7 linked regions of the Homo sapiens genome follow. The protein of the gene in region 4 purifies or fractionates together with the protein of the main gene of each other region. This does not show direct contact. Each region holds a gene or a part of one and is shown on either strand. Other genes may lie near its edges. The genes, in order: ZSWIM8, CCDC14, MYO10, JPH4, VANGL2, POM121 and ARHGAP29.

Evidence for each region.
Region 1: the proteins of JPH4 (region 4) and ZSWIM8 purify together in Homo sapiens (co-immunoprecipitation; 3 studies listed by BioGRID and IntAct, with this or other methods). This does not show direct contact.
Region 2: the proteins of JPH4 (region 4) and CCDC14 purify together in Homo sapiens (affinity purification with mass spectrometry; 2 studies listed by BioGRID and IntAct, with this or other methods). This does not show direct contact.
Region 3: the proteins of JPH4 (region 4) and MYO10 purify together in Homo sapiens (affinity purification with mass spectrometry; 2 studies listed by BioGRID and IntAct, with this or other methods). This does not show direct contact.
Region 5: the proteins of JPH4 (region 4) and VANGL2 purify together in Homo sapiens (affinity purification with mass spectrometry; 2 studies listed by BioGRID and IntAct, with this or other methods). This does not show direct contact.
Region 6: the proteins of JPH4 (region 4) and POM121 purify together in Homo sapiens (co-immunoprecipitation; 3 studies listed by BioGRID and IntAct, with this or other methods). This does not show direct contact.
Region 7: the proteins of JPH4 (region 4) and ARHGAP29 purify together in Homo sapiens (co-immunoprecipitation; 3 studies listed by BioGRID and IntAct, with this or other methods). This does not show direct contact.

Annotation. Positions count from the first base shown.
Region 1 is NC_000010.11:73,795,221-73,799,274, forward strand, and holds part of ZSWIM8 (zinc finger SWIM domain-containing protein 8), read left to right. Parts: intron 1-318; coding exon 319-443; intron 444-1,100; coding exon of another isoform or gene 1,101-1,183; intron 1,184-1,293; exon of another isoform or gene 1,294-1,553; coding exon 1,554-1,794; coding exon of another isoform or gene 1,795-1,799; exon of another isoform or gene 1,800-1,892; coding exon 1,893-2,051; exon of another isoform or gene 2,052-2,156; coding exon 2,157-2,385; intron 2,386-2,560; coding exon 2,561-2,850; exon of another isoform or gene 2,851-3,009; coding exon 3,010-3,233; exon of another isoform or gene 3,234-3,781; coding exon 3,782-4,054. UniProt on the Homo sapiens protein: Substrate recognition component of a SCF-like E3 ubiquitin-protein ligase complex that promotes target-directed microRNA degradation (TDMD), a process that mediates degradation of microRNAs (miRNAs).
Region 2 is NC_000003.12:123,947,177-123,951,386, forward strand, and holds part of CCDC14 (coiled-coil domain-containing protein 14), read right to left. Parts: exon of another isoform or gene 1,957-4,210; coding exon 1,720-1,956; intron 1,610-1,719; coding exon 1,515-1,609; intron 144-1,514; coding exon 1-143. UniProt on the Homo sapiens protein: Negatively regulates centriole duplication. Negatively regulates CEP63 and CDK2 centrosomal localization.
Region 3 is NC_000005.10:16,698,299-16,702,508, forward strand, and holds part of MYO10 (unconventional myosin-X), read right to left. Parts: intron 3,541-4,210; coding exon 2,665-3,540; intron 1,276-2,664; coding exon 1,152-1,275; intron 1-1,151. UniProt on the Homo sapiens protein: Myosins are actin-based motor molecules with ATPase activity. Unconventional myosins serve in intracellular movements. MYO10 binds to actin filaments and actin bundles and functions as a plus end-directed motor.
Region 4 is NC_000014.9:23,568,312-23,572,521, forward strand, and holds part of JPH4 (junctophilin-4), read right to left. Parts: intron 3,610-4,210; coding exon 3,491-3,609; intron 3,150-3,490; coding exon 2,617-3,149; intron 1,407-2,616; coding exon 1,323-1,406; 3' UTR 1-1,322. UniProt on the Homo sapiens protein: Junctophilins contribute to the formation of junctional membrane complexes (JMCs) which link the plasma membrane with the endoplasmic or sarcoplasmic reticulum in excitable cells.
Region 5 is NC_000001.11:160,413,842-160,418,051, reverse strand, and holds part of VANGL2 (vang-like protein 2), read right to left. Parts: intron 2,405-4,210; 5' UTR 2,215-2,404; coding exon 2,144-2,214; intron 1,991-2,143; coding exon 1,870-1,990; intron 1-1,869. UniProt on the Homo sapiens protein: Involved in the control of early morphogenesis and patterning of both axial midline structures and the development of neural plate. Plays a role in the regulation of planar cell polarity, particularly in the orientation of stereociliary bundles in the cochlea.
Region 6 is NC_000007.14:72,938,045-72,942,254, reverse strand, and holds part of POM121 (nuclear envelope pore membrane protein POM 121), read right to left. Parts: intron 3,666-4,210; coding exon 3,574-3,665; intron 2,920-3,573; coding exon 2,846-2,919; intron 2,409-2,845; coding exon 2,287-2,408; intron 1,842-2,286; coding exon 1,739-1,841; intron 1,439-1,738; coding exon 1,262-1,438; coding exon of another isoform or gene 1,244-1,261; intron 419-1,243; coding exon 1-418. UniProt on the Homo sapiens protein: Essential component of the nuclear pore complex (NPC). The repeat-containing domain may be involved in anchoring components of the pore complex to the pore membrane. When overexpressed in cells induces the formation of cytoplasmic annulate lamellae (AL).
Region 7 is NC_000001.11:94,230,960-94,235,169, reverse strand, and holds part of ARHGAP29 (rho GTPase-activating protein 29), read left to right. Parts: intron 1-3,526; 5' UTR 3,527-3,558; coding exon 3,559-3,763; intron 3,764-4,210. UniProt on the Homo sapiens protein: GTPase activator for the Rho-type GTPases by converting them to an inactive GDP-bound state. Has strong activity toward RHOA, and weaker activity toward RAC1 and CDC42. May act as a specific effector of RAP2A to regulate Rho.

The sequences.
Region 1 (4,054 bases), on a different chromosome or scaffold from region 4:
CAGTAGGTCCTAAACCAGCGAACACCATGAGTAAATACACAACGCAATCAAGTTTTCATGAGAATGAGGAGGCCAGCTTCCCTAAAATGATAAGTACATGCTGGGTAAGCAGATTGGACCTGGTTATGAAGGTTTTGAAAAGCACACCAGAGCTTAGGCTGGATATAATAGTCAACGAAGACTTCTATAGGTGATGTGGGTTGGACCAAGGGAACCCCTTACTTCATATGCTGATGGCTTGGGAACCCTGGCCTCTTACCTTTGCTGTCTTGGGAATTATGACTACTCTCAATCCCCATAAGGTCCTCTTTCTCGCAGGCATGAAGACAACAGTGAGCGAGGCAGAACATCCCCTCTTATGTGAAGGCACACGTCGGGAGAAGGGTGACCTGGCATTAGCACTAATGATCACTTACAAGGACGACCAGGCCAAGCTTAAGAAGGTAAGAGACTGGGGCTGGGTGCGGTGGCTCATGCCTGTAATCCCAGCAGTTTGGGAGGCAGAGGCGGGCAGATGGCTTGAGCCCAGGAGTTTGAGACAAGCCTGGGCAACATGGCGAAACCCCGTCTCTACCAAAAAATACAAAAAATTAGCAGCTGGGTGTGGTGGCACATGCCTGTAGTCCCAGCTACTCGGGAGGCTGAGGTGGGAGGATTGCTTGAACCCAGTAGGCAGAGGTTGCAATGAGCTGGGTTCACGCCACTGCACTCCAGCCTGGGTGACAGAGCAAGACCCTGTTTCAAAAAAAAAAAAAAAAAAAAAAGGCAAGGTACTGGGGCCTTTGACAGGCAGAGAAAGAGAGCACATTTTACTACCTTTCTCAGGGAGTTTCCAGTACAATGAGAAAAGTGCTATTTTAGGCTGGGTGCAGTGGCTCATGCCTGTAATCTCAGCACTTTGGGAAGCAGAGGCGGGAGGATCGTTTGAGACCAACCTGGCCAACATAGTGAGACCCTGTCTCTACAAAAAATTAGAAAATTAGCCGGGCATGGTGGCGCGCGCCTGTAGTCCCAGCTACTCGGGAGGCTGAGGTGGGAGAATTGCTTGAGCCCAGGAGTTTGAGGCTACAGTGAGCTATAATCATACCACTGCACTCCAGCCTGGGCAACAGAGCGAGACCCTGTCTCTTAAAAAAAAAAGAAGAAGAAGAAAAAAAGAAAAGTGCTCTTCTGCCCATAGGAGGTAAGTAGGGAATCTTGGGGACATCTCATAAAGAATAAGAGAAGACCAATGGTTCTTATAGGAGTGCTTGGGCATGGGGTGGAAGAAGAGAAGCAGAGGGCATAAAGTCATTCATTCACTTATTTCAGTATTTATTGACTATCAGTATATTCTGCCCTGTGGTGTTAATGGAGGATACCAAGATATGTTGGGGTTAAATAAGTTACAAAAAGACATGTAAACCAGGAGGTCATCCTGTGGTTGTAAGTGGGGAAGGCTCCCTGAGGATGTAGCAATTGGCTGTTTCAAGGAGAAAGGAAGGTAATAGAAGTCAGGAGCTAAAGGGCATCCTGTCACTGCTTCTCTGGAGGTCACTGCTTCTGTCTTCCAGATCTTAGACAAACTCTTGGACCGAGAGAGCCAGACACATAAGCCACAGACGCTGAGTTCTTTCTACTCATCTAGCCGCCCAACCACAGCCAGCCAGAGGTCTCCTTCAAAGCACGGGGGCCCATCTGCCCCAGGGGCCCTGCAACCACTGACCTCAGGCTCTGCAGGGCCTGCTCAACCAGGGAGTGTGGCAGGGGCTGGGCCAGGCCCCACTGAGGGCTTCACAGAGAAGAATGTGCCTGGTGAGGTGGGGGCACTGGGCAGGGGGGATGAATGGTGTGGACCTATGTTGAGGTCCCCTTTCCTGGGCTCATCCCAGCGTCCTGTTTTCCTCACCTAGAGAGTTCCCCACATTCCCCCTGTGAGGGTCTTCCATCTGAGGCAGCTTTGACCCCAAGGCCAGAAGGGAAGGTTCCTAGCCGCTTGGCACTTGGCAGTCGTGGAGGCTATAATGGACGGGGATGGGGGTCCCCAGGACGGCCTAAGAAGAAGCACACAGGTAGGATAGCCTGTGGGCTAGCATAGAGGGAAGGATAATCCTGAAGGTTGGAGTCTTAACATCTGGGACTCCTGACTTCTGAGACTGACTTCTCTTGGGGGTTAGGCATGGCCAGCATTGACAGCAGTGCCCCTGAAACAACATCGGATAGTTCCCCCACCTTAAGCCGGAGACCACTTCGAGGGGGCTGGGCCCCCACCTCCTGGGGTCGAGGTCAGGACAGTGACAGCATTAGCAGCTCTTCTTCGGACTCCCTGGGCTCCTCATCCTCCAGTGGAAGTCGCCGGGCCAGTGCCAGTGGAGGAGCCCGGGCGAAGACTGTTGAAGTTGGCAGGTCAGTGGGAAGAACTCCCCATCTTCCCTGATCTGGCCCACCCTCAGAGCCACACCCCTAGTGCAATCCAACCATTGTCTCCCAGCATCCTCACTTTCCCTGGTCCTTCCCAACCTACCCGGATGCCCATTTCAAAGAAACCCCAACCCCCGTCCCTACCCCATTGCCCCTTCAGGTACAAGGGCCGCCGCCCCGAGAGTCATGCCCCTCATGTACCCAATCAGCCATCAGAGGCAGCTGCACACTTCTACTTCGAGCTGGCGAAGACAGTGCTGATCAAGGCAGGGGGCAACAGCAGCACTTCCATTTTCACACATCCATCTTCCTCAGGGGGCCACCAGGGTCCTCACCGCAACCTGCACCTTTGCGCCTTCGAGATTGGGCTTTATGCCCTTGGCCTGCACAACTTTGTTTCTCCCAACTGGCTCTCACGTACTTATTCTTCCCACGTTTCCTGGATTACAGGTAAATCATTTGACCTGACTTGGGTATGGGAGGGGGATTAATTGGTGGGGATAAGACCCTTATCTTTGTGGGGTTACTGATCTGATAAAAAGACATTATTCTCACACCCCAGTGGTGCCCACACTAACCCAACTCTGCCCTTCTCTCCTTTCCCCTAAGGCCAGGCCATGGAGATAGGCAGCGCAGCCCTGACTATACTGGTAGAATGCTGGGATGGGCACCTGACACCCCCTGAGGTTGCATCCCTGGCTGACAGGGCATCACGGGCAAGAGACTCCAATATGGTGAGGGCGGCAGCAGAGCTGGCCCTGAGCTGCCTGCCTCACGCCCATGCATTGAACCCTAATGAGATCCAGCGGGCCCTGGTGCAGTGCAAGGAACAGGTATTTCTACGGGCAATCTGGGAACCTCTTCTGGGGCATCTGGGCAGGGAGGTTGGGCATGGGAAAGCTAAGGGCCCAGCTCTTGATTCCCGTATCCTGGAGTTTACAGATGATTGTTGGTCCTCTCATGGCAACATTTTACCCATTAATGTGCTTTCACACCCATCTTTCCTTTACCTTACAACTCAAAGGTTAGGTTTATTTCTATTTTACAGATAAGGAAATGGAGGCCTACGGTTTAGGGACCAAGATGATCACTCAGGATAGAAAACTTAGGGAAGGCCTCATACATCTAAGACTTGAATGGGAGGGGGCTGTTAAATTAGTTTGGAACTGGGACTATAACCTGGGTCTTGACTCATTTTGGTCAGTATTTACTCAGTGTGTGAAGCACTCACTGCTCTGATAATGGACTCTAAGCATTGACACTGACCTCTGATGATTCCCTGGGAATGAGACAGCTCTGAGGGAGACATTGGAATCTCATCTAACACCTTCCATGTGGTAAAGGCCTTTCCCCCTTAACACTCTGTGCCCCTCTCTTCCAGGACAACCTGATGTTGGAGAAGGCCTGCATGGCAGTGGAAGAGGCAGCTAAGGGTGGGGGCGTGTACCCTGAAGTGTTGTTTGAGGTTGCTCACCAGTGGTTCTGGCTGTATGAGCAAACTGCAGGTGGCTCATCCACAGCCCGTGAAGGGGCTACAAGCTGTAGTGCCAGTGGGATCAGGGCAGGTGGGGAAGCTGGGCGGGGTATGCCTGAGGGTAGAGGGGGCCCAGGGACTGAGCCGGTTACAGTGGCAGCGGCAGCAGTGACAGCAGCA
Region 2 (4,210 bases), on a different chromosome or scaffold from region 4:
GGAATAGCTGATATGTCAGTTTTGGGCAGGCTACATGGAACTCCAGGACTGGTATTAAATGAATTCCGTAGAACATCAGTACAGGTTGCAGAAACTGTTTTACCTTGTGATGCAAACTGACTGTTGCCATCAGTTTGAACTTCCTAAAGAAAGATAAAAACAAGTCTTCAGAAGTATGAGCACTCATTTGTAGGTATTAATTACAACAAACTCAAATATATGAAATATATTTATTAAAACATGTTTATTAATATATTCATTTTGTGAATATTTAATAAGTAGTTACCACTATATTTTGAGGATATACTATAGTCTGTGTAACTACTCCCATACAGTTAGACATTTAAGTAACAGCCAGTTTTTCACTGCTGAAACATTTCTGTAAATATGTTTGTGCAAAAACTTTTTGTATGTTTAAACTTATTTTCTTATGATGTAATTTCCCAAAGTGGACTAATTTTTGATGCTTTTAAACCATCTGTGGTATTTGTAAACAGTCTATTTTAGTCATGGCCTTGTAATGCTCCCATATTACAGGGTAAATTAAGCTTTAAAAAACAAGAATCTTTATTGCACTGAGGAAAAAAATCCAACTTACTTTTAAGCTAAAAATATTAGTAAGTTTCTGATATTAAAAACTTGCTTATTAATAATAATATTAATTATAAGAAACTCAAATATATGGTTACTACTCCTAACCATATAGTAGTTACACAGACTATGGTATATCCAAAAAATACAGTATTAACAAGTTATTAAAAATTCAAAGGGTATATATTAATAAACATGTTTTTAATAAAGTATTAAGTGAAAGCAGCAGTATATAAGACTGTATTGTTGACTTATAACTTTATTTTAAAAGGAAAGCAAATGTTAACAAATACAAACCAGAAACTAAAACCTATACAGAGGATTAAACGATTGGAAAGAACTCTATCAGTGTGTCAACAGCAGTTGTACTTGGGTGGTCAGTATGGTTGATTTTTTTCCTCCTACTGATCTCTTCCCCTCTTTCTCCTTCATTATTGTCATTAATAAATAGGTAAAACTTTTCTTTCTTTTCTTTTTTTTTTTTTTTGAGATAGAGTCTCACTCTGTAGCCCAGGCTGGAGTGCAGTGGCGCGATCTCACTCACTGCTACCTCTGCCTCCTGGGTCCCGGTTCAAGTAATTCTCCTGCCTCAGCCTCCCGAGTAGCTGGGATTACAGGCATGTGCCACCATGCCCAGCTAATTTCTGTATTTTTCGTAGAGGTGGGGTTTCACCATGTTGGCCAGGCTGGTCTTGAACTCCAGACCTCGTGATCCACCCACCTCGGCCTCCCAAAGTGCCGGGATTACAGGCGTTTAGCCACGGCGCTCGGCCATAAACATGTAAAACTTTTATAGCAAAAAAAAATAAACAACTGGTCTTTAAATCCTAGTGCATTAAGTTATAAGCAATAAATTCAACAGTCCCTCCTGAATGACTGCTATAAGCAAATAGTTACTTATGTAGTATAAGAACTGTACGCACAGAATGAACCTTTGGAGGGCAGGGTGGCCGCTGAAGTGACCAGACTGGGGTGGAGGTACATAAGCCATAACTAGAATGAGGAGTTGCCTGAGATTCTGTAAGTAAGAGGGAGAAAAAATTAATCACATATCCTACTTTTTATACAGTAACCAAGCAATTTAATTAGAACTTACACTCACGATTTTTAAACAGCATTCGTACTCACCAGAATGAGAGGGAGCATGGCATGGTACAGCAGGAATTCCATTAGGGATGTTCTTTGAAGTCAAGTCATTCATCAGTGACATCTGAGTCTGCACGTGCTCACAGAGGGCTTGGTATATTATGGGTGAATACATTCTATAATGATCTTGCAATGACCAGTTTTGCTCTAGGTCTGATGTGTCTCTTTCACTTCTAGCAGAAGCTTCATTAGGTATCTGTTTCTTATTATCTGAAGATGCTAATGTGGAAGAAGAAAAAAGTTCTTGAAATATGATTCTTCAAAAACTTTTACCGTAAGATTTTAAGAGAAGAAAGGGCTCTCAGAAGTAGTCCAATCCATCACATACTTCATAGAAGGGCTTTACCACTATCACCCCTACTAAAGAAAATCATCTCAAATTCTTTCTGAAAGTAATTAGTGTTTAAGTTTCCCCAGTCAAAAATCATCTATACTAATTCTTTACAATTCCCATTTTTTATGCTACTTGCCATTTGTAAAATCTCTCCTTCATTTTAACACTTCTTTTAAGGGAGTTATATTATCCCTAAAGTCCAGTCAAACTCCTTCACCTTGTTCCTTGTCAGTTCATGTTCTCAAGGGAAAATGCAATAGGAAAGAGAATAGTTTGTACAATTCTGATGCTTTGGGTCCTCAAAAACAAAACAAAACAAAACCAACCAAACAAACAAAATCTTGGCCTGGCATTTAAAGTTTCCAAAGCTTGACCACAAGCTACTTTTCCAACTATCGCCCCATCACTCCCAACTCCAATTTTTCATTTCAGGCAGGCCAATTTAGTTACCCAACAAGCTTTTCTCACCTTCCAATAACATTGTTCATGAACCATTCCTACCAATCCAATTCTACCCACTCACCAAGGCTCATCTGAGTTTTCTTCTTCCATGAAGCCTTTTCCAATCCAATCATTCCAGTCTAGTGACTACTCTTCACCACCCTAGAGCACATATTGTCTATAGAAATCATATGCCACTGACACACTGCCTTATATTGCTTATCTTTCATCCTCCTGCCTTTCTGACTAAACCACAAGTTTCTCTAAGCAGGGCTGTACTTCATTGTTTTCTCTTACAGAACCTAGTATTAGTCTATGAACAAGGTAGAAATCGGTATTAACAAAGTAATAAGTAAAAAACAACAAAGTTTTCTACATAGCACTACCTATAGATTGGTATAACAATCTGAATACTATTTCCCTAATTAGGTCCCCTTCCCAAAGGTTTTTTAAAACACTATTAACAGAAATGAAAATATTCTGGTAAATCATAGGTTATCAGTATACAAAATAAATTTAGAAAAATATATGGATATTTGTCACACCTACCAAAGCTAAACGTACATATATTCTATGAAATAACAATTCCACTCCCAGGTATACACCAATAGAAATGAGTGCTTATGTCTACTGAAAGACATGTGCAAGAATGTTCACAGCAGCTTGATTTGCAGTAGCCCAAAGCTGAAAACACCAAATAGCCATGAATAGCAGAAATGGATAAACTGTGGTATACTCGCAGGCTGGAATACTATACAGCATTAAAAAACCAACAAAGTACTGATATATACAACTACCTGGATGTTTAATACACTTAAGGCTGACTGAAAGTGGTCAAACACAAGGGCGCACAGTGTTCAATCACATTTATAGGAAGTCATCAAACAGGTAAAAGTCACAAATGGAAACAGATGTCAGGAAAATGGTTACACAGGGATGAGGGTCTAGGTGATGGTGAGGGTACTGACAGGGAGGGAGCCTCGCAGGGTGCTAAAAATTGTCTGTATCTTGATCTAGGTGGTGGCTACAGGGGTGTATACGTATGCAAAAATTTATTGAGATTTATGTACTTTAAAATTATTTATGAGAAGTATTCCTTAATTTTTTAAAAAACAAAATAATTAAAAATTTAAAAGTAGAGAATCCCTCAAATATAGTTTATTGAAAATAAAAATATTACTAAAAGTGTAAAACTTCCATGTAAAAGCAAAAACAGAAAAAGTTAAAGGCAGATTTAATACTATAACCAGTGAAAATAGAAAAAAAATTTAAAGAAAAAGACAATATTTGACTACGAAAATGGCTGAAGATATCAGATGCTTCCCTTTTGACTTGGGGTATGCTTCCTTTTCAGATGATCTACTCCTATAAATGTACTTTCCAGACCTAAATACAAGCTTTAACACTTATTAGCTGAGTAACCTTGCGCAAATTAACTTCTCTTGACCTGTTTTTCCTCATCAGAAAAATTTTAATAATGCCTATTTTATAAGATTATTGAGAGATGTAAATGACGTAACACTTGTAAATTTCTTAAAGCAATGTCTACCACACAGTAAAAACTCAATGTTAAATATCACCAAATAGCTGCACTCTTACAATAGACAAGTAAATATATCATATTCATAAATCATACTATCTGATGTCAGTAATAAACCTCTGAACATGTCCCCTCTGAGATGATTAAAATCAAAAGTA
Region 3 (4,210 bases), on a different chromosome or scaffold from region 4:
TGCAGTGAGCCATGACCACACCACTGCCCTCTAGCTTGGGTAACAGAGCAAGACCCTGTCTTAAATAAATACCTAAATAAATAGATAAATAAATAGTAAATAATTTTCCAAAAGGAGTGTGCCTCAAGGCCCCTAAGTGTTAAGGTTCAGCAAAGTATACTCAAATGTTAGTAACAATCAAAGCATACAATGCAAATGCTCATCATGAAGTAGGTATGGTGAGCAGTTCAAGCCAGCAGTGGGCCTCAGTGAGATCTTCACTTTCCCCCATGTCTAGCACATCCTTTTAGGCTCTCTAATATCCCTGGCAGGAGAGAACATGCAGTTTTTTTTTTTTTTTTTTGAGACAGCGTCTGGCTCTGTCGCCCAGGCTGGGGTGCAGTGGCGCGATCTCGGCTCACTGCAAGCTCCGCCTCCTGGGTTCACGCCATTCTCCTGCCTCAGCCTCTCAGGTAGCTGGCACTACAGGAGCCCGCCACCGCTCCCGGCTAATTTTTTGTATTTTTAGTAGAGACGGCGTTTCACTGTGTTAGCCAGGATGGTCTCGATCTCCTGACCTCATGATCCACCCGCCTCGGCCTCCCAAAGTGCTGGGATTACAGGCGTGAGCCACCACGCCCGGCCGAGAACATGCAGTTTATCATGAGAATGGGTCTCGACCAATTCCAGCAGCAGCAGCAACACACACATTGGTTTGTATGTCTGTATATATGAGAGAGAGCAATGAGACTGAGACAGAGAGGGAGACAGTGAAAGAGAAAGTGGGAGAGAGAGGGAGAGAAAATAGAAGGATGAAGAAAGAGCTAAGAAAGGAAAACGAGACAGGGAGAGACAGGGGAGAAGGACTGATACTGGAGGCAGTGGTTGCAAATGCTTCGTCCTGCCACTCTGCACCAAACCAGGGGAGTCACGACTGTGTTCATGCTGGTAGGACCACAGCACCCATGTCACACCAACATGACAAGGTGTCCCTTCATTCATCTAAGTGGCCCAACACTGAGGTAAGGGTAGGTAGAACGACTTTCCCAGTCCCCATCCATCAGCCCAGATACAATAACACCTCCGTTATTTCCCACCGCCATCCATCAGCCCGGATAAAATAACGCCTCGCTCTCCCCCTAACCCAGACTCCATGGCGGCTGCAGTCATACCTTTCATGTACAGAAAGCTGTGGAAATACGGCAGAGTGACACAGCTGTACACAGAGTCACGCCGGTATGAAAGCTCATCATCTGTATCAAACCTGGAATCAAAGTCCTCTTCACTATCTTCAAACTGGACCGAGAGAGAGAAGCCAACGGTGAGGGAAAAGGCCACAAAGCAAGCCACGAAGATACCCAGCATGTATCATCATTGAAAAAATACAAAAATACAGCTACTCAAGAGGCTGAGGCAGCAGAATCACTCGAACCCAGGAGGCAGTGACTGCACTGAGCAGAGATCGTGCCACTGCACTCCAGCCTGGGCAACAGAGCAAGCCTCAGTCTCAAAAAAAAAAAAAAAAAAAAAGGGAAAAGGAAAAAGAAAAAAAACAACTGACAAGCAATACGCCTGATTTACGGTAGCACACAAATAATTCGGAATTAAAAATACCAACTTTTAAGGTCAAATGGTCAGTTGAATTGATACATGAAAGACAAGATATACTTGAATCCAAAGGCTATCTGCCCTAAAACTAACAATGCTTTTTAAGGCTATAATTTTAATCAAACCATGCAAGAGTTCACCCCCTCTGAATTACTATATTAAATATATTTTCAAATCTTTGAAAGTCAAGAGAACATTCAATGCACGACCAAAGCGACAAAATAAAAGTAAACTACAGATAAATCCAGAAACTGGAAAAGAGTACATTTAAGCCCTGCAGCTTCTTCCTTTACAGCCACTATAAGAAATAACATCGTGTGGTTTGGATTGTGAAGTTAGTACAAGGAAAGTTTGCCAGTTCACCCCTGGCAAGTCTTGTTCCAGTTCAGGATGTGTCTTCATTTCCTAACGCAGCACGGCAAAGCTAAAAGTTCCATTCAAATTGTAAAAAAAGGGAAGGAAGAAATAAAATAAAATAAACAAAAGTTCCATTTAAAAAGCCAGTTTTAAGCCGGGCATGGTGGCTCACGCCTGTAATCCCAGCACTTTGGGGGTCCGAGGCAGGTGGATCACCTGAGGTCAGGAGTTCAAGACCAGCCTGGCCAACATGGTAAAACCCCATCTCTACTAAAAATACAAAAATTAGACCGGTGTGCTGGCGGGCATCTGTAATCCCAGCTATTCAGGAAGCTGAGGCAGCAGGATAGCTTGGACCCGAGAGGTGGGGACTGCAGTGAGGCAAAATCCTGCCAATGCACTCCAGCCTGGATGACAGAGAAGACTCCACCTCAAAAACAACAACAACAACAATAAATAAATAAATAGCCAGTTTTCTGAAGTCTTGGGCACAGCTCAGCTCTAGGCTTTGTGCTAAAACTGAAACAGGCACATCAAAGTTCTACTTATGAATGCAATTGGCTTATGGAATAAGCAAAAGGTTTAAGATGATCTCTAAGACCACGACTCTGCAATCTTTGCACAGATATCCTACGGGTATCTTCATTCAACTTGAGGATGCAACAGGGGTGGGTGTGACCGGCCACCCATTTCACTGGGACACGCCAGGCAGGTACTTACCGAGGACTGCGCCCCCTCAGAGCTGAACCGGTAGGCACCCGAGCTGTTGTAGGTCCCCACAGAGCAGCGGTAGTCGGGGGACCACTGGCTGCCGTAGGAGTTGGAGAAGGTCACGCTGCTGCCGGAAGTGATGGCACCGTCCTCATAGTCATCCTGGTCGTAGTCGTAGTCGCCGTCTGGGGAGGGCAAGTCCCCAGCGTTCTGGGGCATGCAGTAGGTGGACTCGCCGCTGGAGGAGTTGTGTAGGCTCCCGGAGTCCTGCACTGATGGGGCGAGCAGCACCGTGCTGTCCGCACTGGGGCTGGTGGGCACCACCGTGTCGTTCATGTATGGGTCCTCCTCTGAAGAGTCATCGCTGGTCCGGATGCCACTTGTTCGCTGGTCTGAGTGGCCGTGCTCGCTGGGGTTGGGGGAGTCCTTGAAGGCGTCGTCGTCGGCTTCGAAGCCCTCATCGACCTCCTCCTCTGGGTAGGGCTGGCTGAAGTTGAAGTTGGGCTTCTCCTCGCATGCGCTCTCAGCCAGCTCGCTGGAAAATTCGCTTCCCACCGACAGGGACCGCTCGATATTCCGGACACACTCGTCGATCTCGTCGAAATTGAGGGACTCGAGGAACTCCTGGGCCGCCCTGCACGCTTCCTCCTCCAGCCTGCGGAGCTCCTGGTCCCGCCGCTCCTGCAGCTTCTGCAGGGAAGCCTCGGTCAGCGACAGCTCCTGCTGCTCCTTCATGCGCTGCAGGTCCTCGATTTCTTTCTCCAGACGGAGGATCTCTTCCACCTGCTTATTTTCCTTCTGTTTCTCCAGTTCACGGGTCAGTTCAGCTTCCTTCTGGCTCTTCTGCAAGGCTTCGAGTTCTTGCTGCTTCCTCGTTTCTTCTTCCTGGACAGAAGCAGAAGGGAGATTTCAGAAGGCTTCAGTACAAAAGTCCAAGCATAGCTCCCGCTTTGCAACCAGGATGAAATATGGTCATTATGAGTTGGACTGTGTCCCCATAAAGTCTATAGGTTGAAGTCCTAACCCCAATACTGCAGAATGTGACTGCATTTGGAGATACAGCTTTTAAAGGGGAGACTAAGTTAAAATGAGTTCACTAGGGTGGGCCCCAATCCAAGATGACTGGTGTCCTTTTGGGAACAGGAGACTAGGTCACACAGAGAAAAAAGGCTGCGTGAGGACACACTGGACAGACGGCCACCTGCAAGCCAAGGGGAGGGGCCTCAGAAGACATCAAACTTAAGGATAACTTGATCTTGCAGTTCCGGCCTCCAGAGCTGGGAGAAAATCAGTTTCCACTGTTCAATCCACCAGTCTGTGGTATTTGGCTGTGGTGGGCCTAGCAAACTAACACGCTGGTTATACCGATTTAGAGAAATTATACTCTTGTGATGCACACTAAAACCTCAGCCATTCACTACGCTTTACCCAATTGTAATAGGTCAGAAATTGGATCATAAACACATCCTCTTAAATTGTTCTTCCTGTTATCTTTCTACTTTAATTCAGTTTTGAATCCTAGAGTCCAAGCATTAGAAGTGGGAAGGAAGTAGAA
Region 4 (4,210 bases):
TGCCTCATGCAGGGGAGGGAGGAAAGATCCCCTGGGGACCCTGCAGTCCCCTCTTCCTAGGGCTTCCTGCTCCCAGGGGAAAAACTAATACCAGAGAGGGATCAGCCACAACCTCAAACAGGGCTCTCCACCCACCTGTCACCCGGGTTTGACTCCCACCTCTGCCCTGCCTGGGAAGCATGTGAGATCAGCTATCTTTGATCCCCTCCTTCTGTTGTTTTCCCATTTCACAAGATTCTGATGTAAAGGGGGAAGGGATATAACCCATTTTGGGACTACTAAACTTGTCACAGCTTCTGCTTCCATGTGAGCTCCTGTTATCTTGTCTGGTCCTATCCCCCAGAAGTGCCTCCTCCCACCACAACTCCCAGAGTTGGGATGTGGGGGCCTTGCTCAAGTGCCTCTAACCCTCTGCAGTAGAAATGTCTTCTTCAGGCCCCTTAGGAATTTAATCAAAGGCCACAAGTGAGTCCAGACCAACCAAATAAACTATTATGGGGGAGACAGAAGGGTGGGAGAAGTCAGTGGCAAAGTCTGGGCAGGGTGGACTTGACTGCATTGGATATTCTCTGTTCCTTTACACGTTGCTCTTGGCATGGCATGCCACCAGAGGGGGCTGGAGGAGGGGCTGGCCGATGAGGAGAAAAAGAGGGAAATGCTGGGGAGTTACTCTACTTTTCACTTCCCTTCTCTCCTTCAGGGAAGGATGGAATTGGGCAGTAACCCAGCTCAGTGCTTGGAGGTAAGATAATAGCCTCCAAGATTAGAGGTGGAGGATGCACCTCCTGCAGCTTTTTCACTAGGCCTCAGAGGGACAGCAGGCCCCTTAGGCTAGGGAGCCACAGCAGCTCAGCCAGTGCCTTGCCCGACATTCAATCACTCCTTCTTCATTTTCTTCCTCCTCTCCATTCAGCTTCCAGGAGTCTCCTTAGGACACCAAACCCCCACCCGCAGCGAAGTTGAGGTCTAAAGAAAAGGTGGGAGGGCGTGGAGCAATGGTCTGACTTAGATTTGTGTGTCTCAGAGAAGACAGCAACTCTGAGAGAGAAAAGCCCTTCATATGTAAACAATCTAGAGAAAGAAGGGGTTGGGATGGGGAAGGGAGTGAGGAATACAGAGACAGATCCAGAAGAAATGAGATAATCTGAAAGAAGACAGGGAAAGAAAAAGCGAGAGAAAAAAACAAAGGAGCACAGAAAAGAAAGGAAGAAGAGAAAGAAAGATAGGAGAAAACACAGCCAGGAAGAGGAGAAGAGAAAAAAGGCAGGTCAAAGGGGTGAAGAGGCACGCAACCAAAGCCAGAACCAGGCCAGGAAGTAGCCTCAGGTGAGGAGCTGGGAGAACAGGAATGCCAGGCTGAGGTCCAGGAGGGCCACGGCTCCCACCACCAGGGGGTTGGCAGCTCCCTAGAGAGACAGAGGGGGAAGCAGACTCAGTCCCCGAGGACAGGGCCCACCTTCCTGCCCTGACTGAGGTGGCAGAGCTGAAGGGTCTCAGGCACCTCCCTGCACAGCCTGGAGCAGGGGGATCGCCAACATTTGTTTTGGATTGCAAAACCCCCTCTTCTCCCAGGCAGGGCCCCACCTTTCCTCTGACACCTTCAATGCAGGGACAGCCCTTCCACCTCCTCCCTCTAGTCCCCTCCCATCAGCATATCATGTGTCCCAGGCAGGAGGTGCCTGGCCTTAGTAGCAGACATTGGCAGCAGCAGCCAGTACTGCAGTAAGGCAGAGGGATGAAGGGGTGAGGATGTGGTTGCTAGGAAACAGAAGGCCTAGAGCCCAATCAGAGTAGAGGGTTCTGGGCAAACTCCGCCTCTCCCGGTTTTCTGCCTTCTTCTCTATTTCAACTTCTTCCCGGGAGAGGGAGGGAGAGTCAGGGTAGGGAGGGAACAATCTTTTCCTTTTTTATTTCTGGGCACCAAAGAGAGAAAGTGCGGAGGTGGGGGTGGGGGTGGAGTAGGAAACTGAGAGCTGGAAATGATATGGAAGGAGAACGGGGGAAAAATGTTCTGGCTCTCCCATTAATTATTAGTTTACAACCCTGGGCAAGTTACTTTTTTTTTTTTTTTTTTTTTTGAGACAGAGTCTCGCTCTGTCACCCAGGCTAGAGTGCAGTGGCGCGATCTCAGCTCACTGCAGGCTCCGCCTCCCGGGTTCACGCCATTCTCCTGCCTCAGCCTCCCAAGTAGCTGGGACTACAGGCGCCCGCCACCACGCCCGGCTAAATTTTTTTTGTATTTTTAGTAGAGACGGGGTTTCACTGTATTAGCCAGGATGGTCTCGATCTCCTGACCTCGTGATCCGCCCACTTCGGCCTCCCAAAGTGTTGGGATTACAGGCGTGAGCCACCGCGCCCGGCCTGGGCAAGTTACTTTAAGTGCTCTGGGCCTCAGTTCCCCCATCTGTCAAATGAGGGAGTTGGGCTTGCAGGTGTGTAAGGTTCCTTCCAGCTCGAACGCCCTCTATTTTTTTGAGGTGGGATGTGGTCCAAGACTGGCCAGGCAGAGGAAGCCGAGTGAGATAAAAAGCCCCCCCGGTGATCAGACAGTTCTGGAAAGGGTGGGAGGCAAGGCTTTGGGAGAAGAGGGCACACAGCAGGGACAGAGGATCTCACCGGCTGGGCAGGCCTCTCGGTTGCAGCGGGCTCCCCGAGCTCTTCTGTCAGGCACCCAGCATCAGGACCCCTCGAGGACGAGCCCCTCAGGACCAGCATGGCGATGGGCTCAGGCTCCGTGCCTGCTGGGGCCCTCAGCGGGGGCAGGGGCTCTTCATCCTCCCCCTCCTCCTCTCGAAGACTTCCTGAACTGTCGCTGCAGCCTCCGAGGAGTGGGGAACCGTCTCTGGGCCCTGGCCCTTGCATCCCAGCCTCATCCTCAGCCTCATAGCCAGCTAGTTCCTCTGCCTGTGCGCCTGCCCCCCCCCACTCCTCAGGCCAAGCTTTGGGGCTGGAGAAGGGACCCTGGTCCCCTCCAGGAGGCAGTGGGCTCCGGCAGGCAGGGGGTCGCCAGGGTTGGCGGGAGGAGGCAGGACTGCTGGGCAGTTCAGGGGATCCCTCTGAGGGGGTCAGTCCGTTCTCATATACCCCAGGGCTGTCCTCATCCAGGGGCTCCGTGTCGGAACCTTCTGAGTCCTGCCTGGGTCTGCGGCCTGGGTAGGGATAGCTGAGAATCAGAGGGGCCTAACTGGCCTTGGGCTGGAGTGGCTGCAGCTTTATTCCTGACTGGGCACTTCCCAGGACTTTGGAATTCCCAGGCTCATAGCCTCTCACCGCCAGACCCCAAACCCCCCATTATCCTACTGCATACATTCCCAAGTCCCACTCCCCAGACTACCAGGTCTGGCCCCCACCCTGTGTTCCTTGCACCCTCATTCCTTGTTTTTTCCCATCCCCACTTCCCTTGCAGGGCTTCTCATCTGTTTCCCCACACCTGAGCCTCTCTAGCTCCCTAGGGGCCTCACTGCCCTCCCCCCAGCTGTCCATGCCTCACCTGGGGCCTCTAGCATGGGCTGCAGGTCCTGGGCTATCAGTTTGGCCATTCGAGCTGCCTCCACGGCCTTCTCAGCGACACTGCTGGCTGCCACTGCCTTTAGGAGGGCGTCTGCTGCCCTGTCGGGTCCAGAGACAGGGATTTAGCAGAACTTCCCCCACTTCAAGTTAGTCCCTGCTCAGATGCTCCAGCCCCCTAGCCCCTGTCCCCTCTACATCACATCCTCCTCTCCTCTGGAGTCGTCACCCTTCGCCACACTCTGCCAGCTGCTTCCCTTCCTGGCAGGCCAGGGCAGCTCCCGTTTGGTTTCCTCCCCCTGACCTGGGCTGTGTTTGCCACCATCACACCCTCCTGCTCCTCTCACACCCTTCTACTGCTACGTCCTGTAGTAACACTTCTTCCAGTTGCAAGGGCCAGGCCCTCCTGGAACTGTGTAATTCCATTCCTATCCTGCCCCCTTCCCAGTGACAGTCGAGACCTCACTCTTTTAGCACATCCCCTGCAGTCCTGCTTGGTGCTTATGAGCTATACTACCACCTTCTTTGCAGTTAGCACCTCCTGTTGTTACTAACCCCTCTCACCCCCCTGGAGTCACAGGCCTCTCTGTGGGGTCTAGCACAGGGTCCTGTACCTTGATCCTCCCCTCCAAGCAGCTTCGCCCCTGCCCCGCCCCCTCGTTCAGAGCCACCGTCTCCCTTATGTTAACAGTCTCTGCCTCCC
Region 5 (4,210 bases), on a different chromosome or scaffold from region 4:
TAATCCCAGCTACTCGGGAGGCTGATGCAGGAGAATCGCTTGAACCCAGGAGGAGGAGGTTGTGGTGAGCAGAGATCGTGCCATTGCACTCCAGCCTGGGCAACAAGAGCGAAACTCCATCTCAAAAAAAAAAAAAAAAAAAATTATGGAAGTCCTATCTAAGTTCCTTCCAGCATGCCATGATTTTGGCAGAAGCTAGAGGAGGAGCCTCCAGGGCAGGAATGGCATGAACTGAGGCACCCAAGGGCTATGAGAGCAGAGGATCCCTGTGCAGAAGCACAGCAAGGTGCAACCAGGAAGGTAAGGCAGACAGCAGCCAGGCAGGGCTTGTGCAGGCCACGCTGCAGTGCTGGGCTGGGCAATAAGCACCTGTTCTCCAGGCATGGAGAGCCACTGAAGGAGTAAACCTGATCAAAGCAGCACAGAGAAGAACAGAAGACCCCAGGGGTAAAGGGGTGAAGGCGTGAAGGACACTGTGCAGACTCAAGGCCACTCTGGGTCTCTGGTCTGCAAGGCCACCTCTGCTGGGCCATCTAAATGTCTACAGTGCAGAGGCTACCTGTCTCTGGAGGCAAGAAGGTGGCCAGGCTGAGGTCCCCAGGTGTCCCTCTAAGTGTGGTCTGCTCAAGCTGTTTCTCTGCAGTGGCTGGAGGCCATCCCACGGAGGAGTCCCAAGACCACCAGCTGCCTTCAGCACCCACCCTTCGCTCCTGGGACAGCCTGGGGATATGGAATCACAACCTGACACCCAGGAGGTTGAGGTTACAGGATGAAGGCAGCCCGACAGCACCAGTGATTAGGGAGGTTGAGGAACCTCCTCTCTACAGGATGGGGAACGAGTCTGATGTGAAGATAGAAAGCAGATGCACTGACTGCCTTCAGCTCAAAGCCCTGGGTCTGCTCCCCGCCCTCTGACCCCTAGACATACTGCCCACCCCCTCCAAGGACCAAGGGCTTGGGATCTCCTCCCCAGTAGCAGGTGAGCTGGTCATGTCTCAGGGTCACTTCAAGAACTCAGGAGGCCAGGCCCCAGGAAGAAGGGATTGGGAGAGAGGGAAAAAGAACATTTCCTTCAGGTATTGACCTGCTCCCAAGGCCCAGGAATTCCCAATGTCAGCCACAGAGATTTCTTCTGAGGAAAAAGGAGCTGGGAATCTCCAGCCCCCAAAGATGATCCCAAGGGGAATGAGACTTGGGCAACCTCAGTGTCACCTAAAATCCTGCCTCTGCCCTATTCCAGGACTGTGTTCTGCCCACTGTCCTCCCTACCAGGTGAGCACAGTGGGCAGCAGAGGTTAGAATAGAAAACCTGCTCACCCCTGTCCTGGAGAACTCTCTCCTGGGGTCCCTGCTCCATCCCTCAGCCTTACTTCTTGTCCCTTGGGCTTTCTCCATCTACTCTTCCCATACTCCTTTCCCAAGATCTAGGTGACGCCATTCTACAGGCTGACACCAGAGGGCACAGAGTGCCCACATCTCGAGGCTCCAGGAATACTCAGCTTTGCTCACACATACCCCAGGCCCAGCCACCACCACCACCCTCCTGCTCCAGACTCCCAGCGGGCCTGACTGGCTGGCGGCAGCTCCAGAGGAGCTGGCCAATTCCCATCATACAGCCCAGGTCACCCCCCACTCCTCTGGAGATAAGGAAGGAGAGGCTGCTGCTTCCAGAGGGATCTCTATACTGAAATTCCTGAAGGTCCTACCTTAAGACACTAAGCCAAGCTAAGTGTAACACAAAACACACTCCCCGATCTGATGGCTGTCTGAGACCAGGTTTCCAAGCCCTCCCCCACTCCGTGGAGCCTCCAGCCCCTCAGGAGCAGTCTGAAAATGCCCGGTCTGGACCACCGCATCCCCAGTGCTCACCCGCTCATCCCCTCGTGTGGACTCATTGTCCAGCAGGGGCTCCCCGGGAGCCTGGATTGTCACCGACTTGTCCCCTCGGCCCCCATCTCGACTCTTAGAGCGGTGTCGGTCCCGGCGGTCCCTGCGGCAGGAAGCCAGAAAAGGCACAGAAAGTCCAGTGGTGGACCAGGGTCTTCTCAGCAGCCACTCTACCCTACCACCCCTGCACGTGCCCACCTCTTAACAGCCCCCAACCCTCCCTCCGCCACGCATGTCACCCTGCATGCCTGCCCACCTGTGCTTGCGGGAGCTGCGGGAGTGGCCCGACTTGTAGGAATAGCCCGAGTACTGGGACTCGGTGTCCATGGCGTCTGAACGCCGCGCCTTGTAGCGCTCCAGGGCCGCAGGCTGGGGCCTCTTGGGGGGCCCCACAGCCACCTCCTTCAGCACCGGCTTCTTTAGGCCAAGAGGCACCTTCAGGAAGTCAACTGTCACCCTGAGGGACTCTATTTTGCTGGACGGGTGGGCTTGTCTCAGAGAAAATCCAGCGACGCTCCTGGTGAGAGGAAGAAGCTAGTTAGAGGCGGCTCGAGCTCCCTGTGGGGTCAGGGCAGAGGAAGACCATCTGCACACAACAGCCACAGGAGGCTCAAATGAGCCCAGCCATAGCCTGAGAATATCTCCACCCAGGTTCCTGCTGTCCACTGGGCCCAGTTCCTCCTACCCTTCTCTAGAAAGAGCCCTGCCAGGCTGTGCCAAGGACTCAGGCATGGGGGAAGATGGCCAGCAAAGGCTCCCAGGGCAGGAAGGCTCACCCAGAATGACCCAACCCCAAGCCCTCTGGAAGGGAGGAGCAGGGCATTGCTTCCCTATTCTCAGCCAGGGAAACCGAGGCATGAAGAGGGCAGGTTCTGGCCAGGCCAACAGGCTGAATCAGTGGACACCTCAGAGAGCAGAAAGGAGCGGGCTTCTGTCCAGGGGCTACCCCAGGCCTCTTCTCCCCATGCTACACCTCCTCCCCTCACTCATACTTTCTGAGTGTGCCCACAGTGGGCTGCTTCCCTTGATACCATCTCCCCAGCATTTACTTCAAACACACCCAGTGTTACCGGTAAGATCAGGCTGGCAGCTTCCTTGAGGTTGCCACACATATGCACAGCCCCAGGTGAGGGTGAGGGGTGGAAACTATGGATAATATGGTAGGGGATGGGAGGAGAAGACAAGTTTCTACTTGCCTGAAGTTCTGAAACAGGCAAGGCACAAGTTTATCTGCCTATTTATAGGCTTATCTTCAACCATACTTCACCTTCTGATTCTGCAGAGGAGAATGACCTCTCCTCTCTCTAACCCCCACCCAAATCCTGCTCATTCTTCAGAGCCCGGCCCCACCCCCTCATAGGAGCCCCCACCTACTCTAGACCCAATGTTATCTTCCCTGCTGACCCTGACTCCCCTAACAGCCATCACCATCCACCGAGCGCTTACTTCCTATCTTCAGTCATTGACGCATCAAATCTTGTTTGAGCACCTTCTATGAACCATGTATTCTGCTAGGTATAAAGTGGTATAACAGACCCTGAGTTTACAGTCTAGCAGGGAAGGGGCACACCAAACAAGTAAGCAGATAAGTATAAACGACCGATTGCAGGCATGATGGAAGGGCAGAACAGCAAACTATGAGAGACACCCATGGAGTAAGGGCTACCACTTTAAACTTAGCGGTTCTAGAAAGTCTGAGAAAAGGACACCTCAGCAGAGGCCTGAAGAAGAAATAGGAATTAACCAAGCAAAGAGTGCAGGAAAATGCCCATGGAGCAGAGGAATCACATGTGTGAAGGCCAAAGGCAGGAAAGAGCTTGTTGTATTTAAAGAACCAACAAAGGCCAGTGGAGCTAGAGTTGAGGAAGAGAGTGGGTGGTAGAAGGTGGCACTGCAGAGACAGCCAGGCACCAGGTGAAGAGCTTGAGCTTTATTTTATTCTAAGGCCACAGGAAAACTTTGAAGGATTTTAGCTATGCAGATATGGATTGAAAAGAGGGAAAAATAGAAACAGGGAGATCAATAAGGAGGCGACTGCAGTAGTACAGGCTTGCTAAGGGTAGAGCCACAGAAGAGTGAGTAACAGTCATGTTTGAGACTTAATGTTGGTGGTCAAATCAACAGGACCTAATGAGCGGGAAGGGAGAGTTAAGAATCCCCGGCCTGAGCAAGGGAGCAGATGGTAGCACCATCAGTAGGGTAGGGAAGACTGGGGAGGAAGCAGCCTTGTGAGGGAAGATAATTAGTTCAGCTTCTAGCCTGCTAAGTTAGTGGCCATGAGACAGTAGGCAGCCAGGTGTCAGACGAGCCAGACTTGGAGGAC
Region 6 (4,210 bases), on a different chromosome or scaffold from region 4:
GCTGTGGCTGTGACTGAAGGGCCAGGCGGTGTGGGGCCTTCCTTCTCACTCTTGGGTGGAGCCGTGAAAATGGGCTTGAACATGGGAGGTGCTGAAGATGCAGCAGGGGCGGCAGGGCTGGAAGGTGAGGTGTTCTGTGTTCCAAACAGGAAGCTTTGCTTGGGGGCGGGGGACGGGGCAGATGTGGCTTGGGGTTTGGTAGCCGTCTCTGCCTGAAGGGTTGGAGGTGCCTTGGTGTCAGTGGCTGGTACCATGGATGGAGCAGGGATCAGCCCCAGCAAAGTGGTCGGGGGTTTGGAGTCAAAGGAGGGGCTGGGGAGCAGCCCTGGCGGCCCTGACTGTGATAAACCCAGCGGGGGTAGGAGGCTGGGTGTCTTTGGAGGTGAGAGGGCCTCAGTGGTTGCTGCTCCAGCAGATTCTGGAAGAAGAATAGAAAATGTGAAATTGGAATAAACACTTCAAAGATGATGGTATTCAGTATTTCAGTGTCCTCCCCACGCCTACCACAGAGCCTGGGATCCAAGAGTCAGTCAATAAACTCAGCTAAGTCTACACTACAGGCCTGTACAGTAAATCAAGGAAGTGTTATTTCTACCTCACAGATCATCAGACAGAAGGGGATAAAATGGGGCCTAAATGGGGGCCTAATGTGTAGAGACTAAGACAGTCCAATTGTCTGAACTCTGAAGTTCACGTATGAATCTAGATATACTTTATTTGCCTACTAAGCTCACCTGCCAGGCGCTAAGAGCACACAACTATGAATGGGGAAGTCTCTGCCCTTGAGCAGGGAGGGTGCGTACGAACCCCAGGTTACCGTCTGATAAAGAGGTGTGCGCGCGCAGTGCCGTGAAGGCCTGGGCCGGGAACACCAGCAGCCCTCGAAGTGCTGGAGGGAAAGGAAGCAGTGCTGTTCTGGACCAGTGGTTCTGACAGGCAAGGATATCCTGACCACGCCACCACATTCACACTTCAGAGGTGCCGCACAGGGAAGATCATTCTCATCTGACAGATGAGGAAGGCGAGGCTCAGGGCAGCTACGAGCCAGGCTTCAGATCCTGAGCGTCGCAGCACCCCTTCTCTAACACTTCCTGATGCGGGCTCTGGCGCTGTTAAACGTGGGCCCGCTCCGGTGTGCTGAGCCAGGGTGCGTTCGGCCTGCAGAGCAATCTCCAGCGACTGACAGGCACGACGCCCTTATTCCAACTCAAGCCGGGGATGCTGCTCAGAAGGCTGGATCCACGGCCCCACTCCAGCTCACCTGGGCAGGGTGGCAGGCTCGGGGGAGTCTGCATCTTCTTCAAGCTCTCTAACAGTGGGTTGGTGCTTGGGGCCAGGAGGGAGGTGGGTGGGGAGGCAGGTGCAGCAGCAGGCAGGGTAAAGGTAAATGAAGGCTGAGTGATAGGTGGGGTCTCAGTGACAGAGTTCGAGGCAGCATCTAAGAAAGAAAGAAAGGTGAAGCAGTCCTGGCTTGTCTGGGACTTCTTTCCACATGCCTGTCGGAGAGCAGGCTCTCAGCACAGCTCATGGAGGAATGCCTGCCCTCAATTGCAGTGGTCCCTGCTGTCCAGTTCCCGTGAAGACCAACACGGATATCTCAGGTGAGAAAGACCACAAGAAAACATGGAACCCTACTTGGGATTTTCCCAGAGAAACCCATTTTTTCAAACACCAAAATAAAACCAAAGAAAACAGACACCTGAAACCTCTCCAGTGTGCAACAATCTGTGCTCCTTACCGCTCTTGTCCTCCAAGGCCTGGTTGAACCACTGTAATGAAGCCTTCTTCTCTAAGTCTAGGTCCTCGGCAGTGATCGAATAGCCAAGCTGGGGAGGTGGAGGCTACCAAAGTGAAAAAGAAGAAGTCAGGCCAATCAGAAAAAACGGGAAGGCTAGGCATGGTGGCTCACACCGGTAATCTCAGCACTTTGGGAGGCCAAGCCAGCTGGATCACTTGAGGTCAGGAGTTTGAGGCCGGCCTGGCCAACATGGTGAAACCCCATCTCTACTAAAAACACAAAAAATCAACCAGGCGTGGTAGCAAGCACCTGTAATCCCAGCTACTTGGGAGGCTGAGGCAGGAGAATTGCTTGAACTCAGGAGGCAGAGGTTACGGTTAGCCAAAATCGAGCCACTGCACTCCAGCCTGGGTGACAGAGGGATGTTGTCTCAAAAAACAAAAACAAAAATAAATTAGAAAAAAAATCAGAAGAAACTTGTCCTTAGCGTTCCTAATACTTAGGAGAGCTAAGCCGGGGAGGGCAGGAGTAGATGGACAAGACCATACCAAGGTCAGCTGTTCCCCTCGCCGAGAAGGCAGCAGCTGAACTTTCCGCTTACGCTGCCCAGAGCTGCCAGGTGTAGACTGAGAATTCGAGTTTTGTTTCTTCCTTGGGGTTGTATCTGCAGCTAAAGAAAGAAATCAAGACTCGTTTGCTTCCTTCCCTCTTCCAGAAATGGATGGTTGTGTCTACCCACTTCGCATTTCACATTGAGTTTTCAATGGGTATCTCTGAAAAGATTCAATCTTCTATGGTTTGGTTGCTTGGATGGTGTTTGCAAGATTAAGGCGCGCACACAAACCGCTTACTGTGCAGTAATTACTGGGATCACCCACAGGTGACTCAAACTGAGCTTACCTCTATCCAATCGTTAGTCCCTGTCTGTAGCCTTTCTCCCTCATCAGACTATAAACTTCTGAAGGAGAGGAAATCTCTCTCTTTGTATCTAACATGCCTTAGACATAGCAATGCTCAAGACCTTTTTTCAATAGGTATTAATCTCTACATCCTCCACAAACACCTCCACCACCAACAGCAGCCCCTCCTCCTGGCTCAGCAACCTACCCTTTTCTCCCTGGGACTCCCTGTCTGCTGCCAATGGAGTTGAAGAACTGGAATGATGACACAGCTCCTCTTCTCTGTCAGGAAAAAAGGAACAATTTAGTCTAGAAAGGCTTCTTGGCTGAAGTATTAAATAATTTCTCACACCCTCCTAACTACCAAGTGGCCAATGTCTAAAACAACCATCATTTAAGATCTCAGTATGCCAGGATAAAAAAAGTCAACAGGAAATTCCAACAGAATGAAGGGAGGCTGTTCACAGAGGCCATGAAGACAGCTTTTGTCTTAAAACAAGCACAAAACAATAATCTTCAAACCTTACTTACAACCTATCAAGTCCCTGGGAGTTCTAGACACAGATGTGATCCCTGAGGGAGTGGCATTCCAGCCAACTGCAAGCACCTAGGGGGTCAGCTCGAGTCAAGAACCTGAAGGCGACTGCCCGCTGACTTGACTCTCTCTGCTCTCCACTCTGCATGGCCTCTGTGCTTGCACCCGATCCCTCATGCTGGAGTGGGAGGCGACAGCCAGAGGCCACTGGAGTCAGTATCCAAGACTGTAGGGATGACAGCACTTCGGGTGGGTACTGCATTGTACCTCTCAGGGACTTAAGTTTCTTTGATTCTCCAAGTCACAGCAGCACAAAGCCTAAGAGCCAGGTTCGTTTCCCACCTTTCCTCACCCCCGCCTGTCCACGCAGCAAATGAAAACTGCAGGAGAATGCCAAGTACCTTATTTTCTTTGCTGGCCTCTCCGGTGTCTGGGAGCGGGAGGAGGCTGGGCTAGAGAAGGGTGATGAACTGGGGCCATTTCTCTTCCAGAGCTAAAAATCAAGAGGGACATGACTGAGCCTGCTGATAACTTAGCATCTGACCCTCAACACGACAAAGTCTCTTTTCAAGTGACTAAAAAAACATTCTTTATGGTTAAATGGTTAGTCATGCCTGTAATCCCAGCATGCTGGGAGGCCAAGGTGGGAGGATCGCTTGAGCCCAGGAATTTGAGCCCAGCCTGGGTAACATAGCGAGACCCCTGTCTCTACAAAAAAACTGAAAAATCAGTTGGGTGTGGTGGTTTGCATCTGTGGTCCCAACTACTCAGGATGCTGCAGTGAGCTGAGATTGCCCCACTGCACTCCAGCCTGGGTGACAGAGTGAGACCCTGTCTCAAAAAAAAAAAAAGAAAAGAAAATGAAAAAAATTTGTTTGTGAAGAAAGACCCCTGAAAAGAAAGTCAACTGCCAGTATTAATTATGAAAGCAAAAGAAGAAAAGTCTATAAAAGTAATGGAATGCGAATAAAGGTAGAAGGGATGGACACACTTTTGCATATATTAGGTGGAACGTTAGCCTCAGTAATGAAGAGCCAG
Region 7 (4,210 bases), on a different chromosome or scaffold from region 4:
AGTAATATATAACAAAATCAGCACATTAATCATTATAATGCTGGCTAGAGATAGGGTATAATCCTTTTTTATAAGAGGAAAAGAGTTCCTCTTCTCCTTGCCATGTGTTTGATGTTGTTGTTGCTGTGTTTGTTTTTTGCAGATTTTTTAAGTCTTGTCTAAAAATGTTCCAGCAGTTTTGAAACACTTTGAAAGTTTGGGTTACTATTTTACATGTAGTTACTTAAAGTAAATTATTTCTGCTAAAATAGGTAAATTGTTTTAATGTCTTTAATTTTTGTAACCATCTTTACCAGTGACAGTGACCAATTCTCTAATTTACCAAGTTTAAAAGCTGTCATAACTAAACAGAATGACGTTATTAAGTAAACTGCAAGAGTGATGTTTGGTTAGGCTAATAGGCATTTTGGTTAGTGATTTGTAAAAGAGCTGCCCAAAAAAGACACTTTGAATTTTTGTTTTGTTTTTGTTGATGGGAAGGAAGACTTAGATATAATAATAATGCTCAAAAATTGCCCTAGATTCATTTTAGAAATGATGTATGCATATAAGGATTAATGTTAGATAGGTTTGAAACTAGTTTAAATGTAGAAGTTAGATTCTCAGAAATAATTTGAGATTGACAAAAGGACAGTGAATAAACAAACTTTAAAAATTATAAAGTGTGGTCCCCAGTTTAATAATCAGGAGGAGCAATAATAGAAATCCAACTTTGATTTCAGTTTTATGTAATCTTCCCTCAGCTTCATATACTTTTCTTTTTGAAACATACCATTTTAGAGAGTTTTTTAAAAATTTATATTTTCACTTCAAAACATTGCAACAACCCAGAGTTATTTTTGTTTCTATAAAAATTAATTGAAACTTTATAAGTTTATAAGCCTATCTGCAGATAGTTCTAAGTAGTTCATTCCTCATACGCCAAGCATTGTGCTATGATCAGAGAACACATGGTTAGCAAATAGACATACATGGTCTTGATTTCCATGAGATTATACTCTAGCTAGGAAGACATGATCTATTTGAACTGTGGTATGAGCAGTGATGAAAAGTAGAGGATACTATGGAACATCTCACAGGAGATTCTACTCTGGTTTGATGGTAGTGGTTTTGCTGGGGGATGGGGATGGTCCAGGAACGTTTCTTTGAGGAGGTAAGCTTTGAGCTGAGATCAGAGTGAGTAAACAAAGGAGAAGGAATATTCCAGGCAAATAGAATTACATATAGACAGGACCCTGAGCTGAACAGTTGGTGTTTTTCAAACTGTAGGGTCATGACCTATTATGTGTATGAAACCAAGTTGGTGAGTTGCACCCAGCATTTTTAAAAATGAAATGGGATGGAATTTTTAAAAACTCACATACATCCCATGGAGCCTTACCCAGAAGCATGCCACACACAAACATAATACACTTAACATGTATTATTATGTAAAATTATTTCCTGGTGAGAGTCATCGTAAACAAATACTGTTGGAAGAATGAGAAGGAGGTGTGTGTGGCAGGAGTGTTGAGAGCCAGCAGGTGTGTCTCCATATGACATTGCACAGGTAGGTAGGAGCCAGATCTCATGTTGAGCCTTGTAGAGCATGATAGCTTCTCACTTATACTTTGGAAGGGTTTTCAGTAGAGAAATGACATTATGAGATTTATGTTTGAAATGTTCACTCACTACATTTGTGATGAGACAAGAATGGATGCAGATAGATCATTAGGAAAGTAGTATAGTAGCTCAGAAAAGAAATGATGGTAATTCACTAGTGTGGTAGCAGTAGAGAGAAGTGGGTTGATTAGAGAACCCTGTAGATCAGAAAGAAAAATGAACTATGGAGTTGGGTGAGATATAGGAAGGAGTAAATGATACAATAATGTATCTTACATATGACTAGAAACGGATATTACATAAAACTTCCTAGTGGGCCAGGCATGGTGGCTCATGCTTGTAATCCCAGCATTTAGCTAGGCTGAGGTAGGAGGATCACTTGAGCCCAGGAGTTTGAGACCAACCTGGGCAACATAGTGAAACTGTATCTCTACAAAAAAAAAATTTTTTTTTTAGCTAGCTAGGTGTGGTGTTGTGCCCCTGGAGTCCCAGCTACATGGGTGGCTTTGGCGGGCAGATGGCCCGAGCCCAGGAGTTTGAGGCTGCAGTGAGCTATAATCACACCACTGCACTCCAACCTGGGTGATAGCGTGAGACCCAGACTCAACCCTTCCCCCCTCCAAAAAAAAAAAAAACCAAAAAACTTTCTACTGTAAATTTTATAGAAGTCCTTAGTCATCTACCATTTTTAAAGTAGCCAAATATTCAAGACAAAATACTTGAAAAAAAGTGTTAATAATAAAGTGTGAGTTAATTTAATTCCTCCGGTTATTTCCTTTTTGATTTCCAGAGATACAAACAAGATTAGAACTTTTAACTCTGGAAAGGTAAAATGAGGGTGAAGAAGAAAATAACTATGATTTTCTTGAGTTCCAGCTATGTGCCAGTATTAGGTGTTTTAACATATGAAGTCTTCTAATTTTGTGATCCCTTTTCATCCTCACACAAGCCTGTAAATAAATTGTACTGGTCACATATCTAGAAAATACTAGAGCCAGGATTCAAATCTAAATTCTTCTCATACCAAAAGATTACCTTTTTACTACCATCCTGAGATTATCAAAAATATTGCTCTGATGATCACACGTGTTTATTTAACCAGTCAGAGTATGTCAGATTAGTGGGCACCCTTGTAACTTATTTTCAACAAAGAAATATCCTTGATGAGACTTGGTAATCCAGGATGTGTTGTGTGTGTGTGTCTGTGTATATGTATGTATATGCATTATTAGGAAAAACTAACTGTAATTGAACTTCTATGTTCTCGACACTTCTGTATCATCGCGTCATGTAATCCCTACAATCTCATGAGATAGGTGTTGTCAGGATGTTACTCCCATTTTATAAATGAGCATACTGAAGTAAAGAGATGAATAGATCATACAATAAGTGACAGAGGAGGATTTTAAGAACAGGTATTTCTTTTTTCAAAGCCCATATCTCATCTTTATTTTTGAAGGTGATGTCATGGAAGGAGAATATGACCTTCTACTAAGTGATGTTTCAGAACAACTTTTACAATTAAATAAAATTCTATACCCTAGGAATCAAGAGGAAGTTATTAAGAGCATGGATTTTGGCATCAAGGCAGATACAGGTTTAAGTCCTAGTTCATTATCAGTTGAGAGCTTAAGGCAAATTTTTAACCTCTAAACCTCAGGTTCCTCATTTGTGAAATGTAAAGAACAGTAGTTTGCATGTCAGAGTTGTCGGAATTACTGGTATTTAATAAATGGAAACTGCTATTATCAATAATACAGTGATTGATTATTGATTTTTGATTTTTAAAAATTTAAAAATAGGATACCAAGGTGAGCTGTGGGCTGTTTGTGAAAATCTAGTGTAATATTTCCCTGGCTGATTTAGTTTTTGTGTTTCTTTCTCTCTCCTCGCTTGTTTTTGTTTTGTTTCTTGCCCCCTTAAGGATTTCAGTTTTTCTGACTGTTACATGAAAGGATGATTGCTCACAAACAGAAAAAGACAAAGAAAAAACGTGCTTGGGCATCAGGTCAACTCTCTACTGATATTACAACTTCTGAAATGGGGCTCAAGTCCTTAAGTTCCAACTCTATTTTTGATCCGGATTACATCAAGGAGTTGGTGAATGATATCAGGAAGTTCTCCCACATGTTACTATATTTGAAAGAAGCCATATTTTCAGGTTTGTCACTTTTCTATTAGCATTCTTGCTGGATAGTTTGTAAAATTTTAAATGCTGGCCTAGCAGATAAGTTTGTACACAGTGGTAGGAACAGGGTATTCTGCTTTAGTTATTTTAGTGCTTTTTTCCCCAAATCTTTGATGGTTACAGTGTAAACTATTTTATAATCAGATAATAGTGTAATACCTAATAGAAACTTCAGTGTGAGGGAATAAGAATACAAAAAAGAAAAATATCTTTGATTCCTGTGGTTGGGTCCATTTGACGTAGGAAAATTTGACATCATTGGAATTTTAACCTTTCTGTTAATGGTAACACAGTGCATTGATTGGTCTTAAATAAGCTGACTAATGTTTATAATTTACATTGTTGACACTGTTACCTAAATTCACCTTTCCACATTTTAGATGAAGTTTTGGTATCTAAAATGACTGCATTTTTTTTTTT